Linked DNA regions of Homo sapiens: region 2 is linked to region 1. A link means that fine-mapping ties the variant in region 1 to the expression of a gene that starts in the linked region. Tissue or cell type: whole blood. Region 1 holds a variant in brackets; the other region holds the start of a gene. All regions are shown on one strand. Distances are between the middles of the regions.

Region 1 (2,757 bases):
AAGAGGGGTCAAGAAATAAACAGTAGAATCAAAGTCTCTAACAATCTGAAATAATTGAAGAACCTGAAGGTGGATATAAAGTACGGGCACAACTCATTTTATTGCACTTCACTTTATTGTGCTTTGAAGGTACTGTGGTTTTTACACATTGAAGATTTGTGGCAACCTTGCATTGAACAAGTCTGTTTGGTGCCATTGTCCCAAAAGCATATCCTCATCTCATGCTTCTGTGTCAGCATTTTAAAACAACAAAGTATTTTTAAATTAAGGTGTGTACATATTTTTAGGCAGAATGTTGTTGCACACTTAATAGACTACAAGCATATTGTAAACAAAACTTGTATATGCACTGAGAAACCAAAAAATTTGTGTGACTCACTTTATTGCAGTGTTCTGCAACCAAGCCTGCCATGTCTCTGAAGTATCCTGTAGTTATTTTATAAAATGATTAAAGAAGAAATAGAGCCATAGTAAGAAAGGAAGACAGTTTGAAAAAAAATTGGAAGGTTTTTTTAAAAAGAACTAAAAGTGCATGATATGTTCATTGAAGTTTTTTTAAAAAGTCATCAGATTAGACACAGTTAAAGACAGAATTAGTGAATTAGAAGATAGAGCTGGATAAATCCCCCAAGCACAGCAAGAGAGATAAAAAGATGGATAGTATAAAAGTGTAATTAGGAGTCATAGAGGAAAGAATGAGAATGCCCATTAGGAAATCCAGAAGGAAGGACTTTAGAGAATGTTTGAGTAGAATAGTTGAAAAGATAATGGCTGAGAATTTTCCAGAATTGAAGAAAGGCATATGTGGTCAAACAATTTTGAAGTAGAATAACAAGCAAGGGAAATTATCCATCAGATATCAAGATATATTACAAAGCTGTGACCATTAAGACAATGTGTTAATTGGCCTAAGTGTAGACTAACCAATGAAATAAAATTGAGATCTTTAAACATGCATATATGGCAGTTTGAAGGCATTATAAATGAGATTTACATACACCTATAAATTGTGCCAGGGCAATTAGTTATCCATATATGAGGAAAGATAAAATTAGATCTCTGCCTCACACAAAATCAATTCTAGGAGGTGGGAGGTGGGGGTGGGAGTTAATAAGAACCTATATATGAAAGAAAAACCTTTAACATTGTTAGTAGAAAATATAGAATATGACGGCCAGGCGCGGTGGCTCATGCCTATAATCCCAGCACTTTGGGAGGCCAAGGTGGGCAGATCACCTGAGGTTGGGAGTTCAAGACCAGCCTGACCAACATGGAGAAACTGCATCTCTACTGCAAATAAAAAATTAGCCAGGCATGGTGCATGCCTGTAGTCCCAGCTACT[C/T]GGGAGGCTGAGGCAGGAGAATCTCTTGAATCCAGGAGGCAGAGGTTGCGGTGAGCCGAGATTGTGCCATTGCACTCCAGCCTGGGCAACAAGAGTGAAACTGTGTCTCAAAAAAAAAATATAGAATATAACTGTATATATTAAGACATGCTACATATCAGAATTCTTTCATCATTGTCTAAGAAAAGCTTTTTGCAGGAAAGATATTTACAATGCACAAAATATAAAGATGGGTTTCTTGAATAAATATGCAAATCAGTCCAGTAAATAAATGGGCAAAGTATATGACCTGGCAGTTCAGAGAAGAGGAAACCCAAAATAGCCAATAAATATAAATAGGTGTTCAACCTTACTAGTAATTTAAGGGCTTGCAAATTAAACCATCAAATTAGCAAAAATAAAAATGGTGCTATAACTGTGAGTGAGGTAGAGTGAAAGGATGTGTTCACTTCCTCAGAAGCCATGTACATGGGTAAAGCTTATGGTGGGCATTTCTGGTAAGCTAGAAGATATGGTCCTAGGTGTATACCCTAGTAGATGCCCAAGAAAGTGTATACAAAATATTTGTTGTATTTGGGAGGCTGAGGCAGGCAGATCACTTAAGGTCAGGAGTTTGAGACCAGCCTGGCCAATATGGTGAAACCTCATCTCTACTAAAAATACAAAAAACATTAGCTAGGCATGGTGGCGCATGCCTGTAGTCCCAGCTACTCAGGAGGCTGAGGCAAGAGAATCACTTGAGCCTGTGAGGTGGAAGTTGCAGTGAGCCAAGATCCCACCACTGCACTCCAGCCTGGGTGACGGAGCAAGACTCTGTCTCAAAACAAAACAAAACAAAATATTTGTTGTTGCACTGTTAGAGTAAGAAAAGCCAGAAACAACCTAAATGTTCATCAATAGAATGAATAAATGAATTGCAATAGATTTACTCAATGAAGTGTTACAGAGAGCAGTGAAAATGGATCAAATCAAATGGAGAAAAAAGGAAATTACAGAAGGATCTACGTAGAATGATACTATCTAGATACAATTTTAAGCATGGGAAACATTGATATATATCTACTAAAGGAATAAAAACATTTATGAGAGTGGTAAACAACTTCAAAATAAGGGCGTTATTTCTACTGAGTGGAAGGGCTCAGGGTGCAGTGTTTTGGTGATATCTAATGTTTTATCCCCTAAGTTTTGTGAGTCTTGGGTGTGATGTATCCACACATAGATAGGTCATCATGACACTGGAGGACATCAAAGGCAGAGAAACGTGTAGAGCTGCTAGAGAGAAATGACTGGCTAAGCATGAAGGGATGATAATTTGACAACAGATCTCTCATTAGTAGCAATAGATGCCAGAAGAGCTTGGAATGCATCTTTGAGCTGCTAAGGGGACTGCACTGTGACGTGCATGTGGACAGGCT
Region 2 (2,757 bases), 39 kb before region 1:
GAGGATCATGCAGCAAATAGCCCGAAGAGGGATTCATGCGTTTCACCATAATGGTTAAGAACAGGGCTTTGTCAAAGGATACCTTCAACTGCAGCAGAATGATGGACTCAAATCACAGAGACACGACAAAGTGACGGGTAGTCAGCTGTGGGTTGGTTCAGAGGCTCAGGCTGTTCCGGCTCTAGGTGATTTCCTGCTTTCCTAGGGTTCCCACCAGCTGCCCTCATGGTGACAAAAAGGCTGCTGCAGCTCCAGGAAACTTACACTGGGCAAGGACAACAGGAAGAAAACAGCCCCCACCCACCCAACTCCCCTTTTAACTAGAAGATCTTTCCCGAAACTCTGCCTCAACAGACCTCGCTTACTTCTCCCTGGCCCGTACTAGGTCGTGTACCCATCGTTAGCCAATCGCTGGCAACGGATTGGCCCCGTTTTAATTTATCCAAAAAAGGCGCCAGTCTGGGCTGTTTGGAGCAGTCAAGGGAGCTCCGTGCTAAGGCAGGAGGGGCCTGGACATGCGGCTGCAGGAGTCCGGGCCTCGGTGCCCTAAGATGAGGGCTCAGTGGTGCTCAGCACCGCGCCGGGCCAGAGACTGAGCCGCCGCCGGCTGTTGAGGGTTGGTTGGCTGAATCCCCGGCAGGGGCCAGGCGGAGCGAACATCACCGCGGCAACTGCCTCCACAGCACACACTCCCGACAGTGGCTGCGCTTTTCCCCTTCAGCACAGCCCAAAGGCCCCGGCAGCTCAGCACCTGCGACCTCCTAGTGCCCTCCAGCCTACGGAGGAGTAGAAGTCCTTCCGGGGCCTCCCAACCAGCAGCCACCAGCCACCAGCCACAAAAGCCGTGAGCCGCGCGGGGCTGGCCTGAAAGCTCTGCGTCTTCCCACCGCGGCAACAGCAGCTCCCACCCGGAAGCGAGGCAGCCCTGCGGACCACAACTCCCAGAAACACCCGCTGTCTCGCTCAAGCTAATTGACCCGCTGCGCCATCTATTAGCCAACCAGCCACAGGGAGACGGCTCCCCACGAGGCCTAACAACCAATCATAAGACAGAGGAGGCGGGCGCTCCTCCAGCCGATCCACGGGGTGTTGTCAAAAGTTTGGCGGGATCCTGAAAGAATGCTTTCTTTAGAGCCCCACGGCTGCTCCTGTGAAGGGAGAAGCGACAAGCAGAGATATGCAGGGACCTCTCTGCGAAGTAATGACTTGGGGCAGACGGACAACGCCCACAGCATCCCAATAGTCTCAGAAGACTCTGGTCTCTGCTACTCCTGCCTGCGGTCCTCGCCTTGGTGCTCTCGCGCTTCCCGCGGCGTCCCGCCCCTCCCTCTCCTTATTGGCTCCCCAGGGCCTTGTGCGGAAGGGGGCGTGGTGCGCGGGCCTCGGCCAGGCCTGAGATGCCGGGAGGGTTTGACCCTGGGGCTGCATGGACAGCTTAGCGCTCGGCCGCTGGCGACAGCGGAGGGCGGAGGATCTGCAGGTTCCGGGGGACGTGGTGAGCCCCCGGGGCCTGGGCGTTAGGGACGGGAGGGCGGATGGCCCCTGGGCGGGTTCCCACCGCGCCTCGTTTTTGCCGGCGCGGCCCTGCCTGTGAGGAGGCCTGGCCCAAGACACTCGCACGCTCGCGTACGTCCCTGGGAGGGCGTGGCCAGTGATGGGCGTGGCCTGTTAGGGCGGGGTTGTGACGCCGCTCTCCCGGTTTCGCGCCTGCGCGGTCGGGCGCGGAGCTCGGGCACCTTCCTGACCCACACGCTCACTGGGGCTCCAGACCCAGGCTCCCTAAAACATGGGCCGAGACTCATTGCAGGACCTCGGGTGCTTGGTATCCGTGTCATGTCTTCTCCTGCCGTCTACACCTGACTGTTCCTGAGTCTCGTTCACTGAGCGCCTGCCACGTGCCAGGCCCAGGGCTGGGTGTTGGGGGACGAGTACGTGGGGAGCGAACACGCGCAGAAAATTACCCGGCATTGAGCGTGTTAGTGCTTCTTGGGCTGAGTCCATTAACTGATGAGCAGAGGGTAAGATGAGATGGTAATGGGGAGACTTGCACAAGATCCCAGGGTGCGTGGGTAAGTCAGGTATGTGTGAGACTTGAAGGATGACCGGGGGTAGGCAGGATGGGAGGTGACAAAAAACAGTGTTGGAGGAAGGAGCTTAGCGTCTTAGGGGCACTGAAAGAAGTACTGCAGGATTGGAGCTGGAAGACAGAGCTGCTTGGCATTCCTGTATTTTATCTTCCACCTCTGCTTGCAAATTGGCCAGTTCTTACTTAACCTCGTTTATTTCAAAGTTCCTCGCTAGGGGCAGCAGTGAGCAGCCAACATACCGCATATTTGCTTTTTTTTTTCTTCTAGAGCTACACAGGCTTGGTAAGTGCAGGATCCGTCTTCCCAGTTAATACAGGCAGCATTTTTTTAGATGTCTTTACTGCGTAGCGGGAATGACTAGCTTTCTACCCTGCACCATCTCTTTCCTCACTACTCACTGCCTGGCCGTGAAGCCAGTACCACTTAGGTTTCTATCACAGCCGCACCCCTCCTCCAGGTACCAATTGTTATATTACTAGGGTGCAGGTTACCCCAGTAATATAGTAATAATATGGTATAGTAATGTAGTATAGTAATAGTATAGTACAGTAATATAGCAGGTTAGGGTGCTTTTGTAACCAAGAGCCTTCAAAGCACGCTGGCCCTAACAAGATGGAAGTTTGATTCTCCTGCACAGAACAGCATGGACGTGAGCAGTCCAGTGGGGTGG

What was found. PIP is the estimated chance that this variant, and not a neighbour inherited with it, causes the effect.
Region 2: it holds the start of C10orf143, and the variant in region 1 is fine-mapped to the expression of C10orf143 in whole blood (TOPMed, PIP above 0.99). The same link has a PIP of 0.9 or more in tibial nerve.

Annotation. Positions count from the first base shown.
Region 1 is chr10:130,070,339-130,073,095 of GRCh38, reverse strand. All of the region lies in intron 3 of C10orf143 (chromosome 10 open reading frame 143), which reads left to right. Among named protein-coding and RNA genes, the nearest start is that of C10orf143, 39 kb to the left of the region's middle. The variant C/T (reference allele first, on the strand shown) is at 1,343.
Region 2 is chr10:130,109,442-130,112,198 of GRCh38, reverse strand. C10orf143 (chromosome 10 open reading frame 143) reads left to right here and starts at 1,369. Exons shown (of 4, transcript NM_001355042.2): 1 at 1,369-1,495. The coding sequence starts at 1,427. It overlaps LOC102724883 (a long non-coding RNA gene), which reads right to left and starts at 906. Exons shown (of 3, transcript NR_188169.1): 1 at 83-906. RefSeq lists enhancers at 65-194, 675-1,004, 1,865-2,044, 2,205-2,314 and a silencer at 1,295-1,674.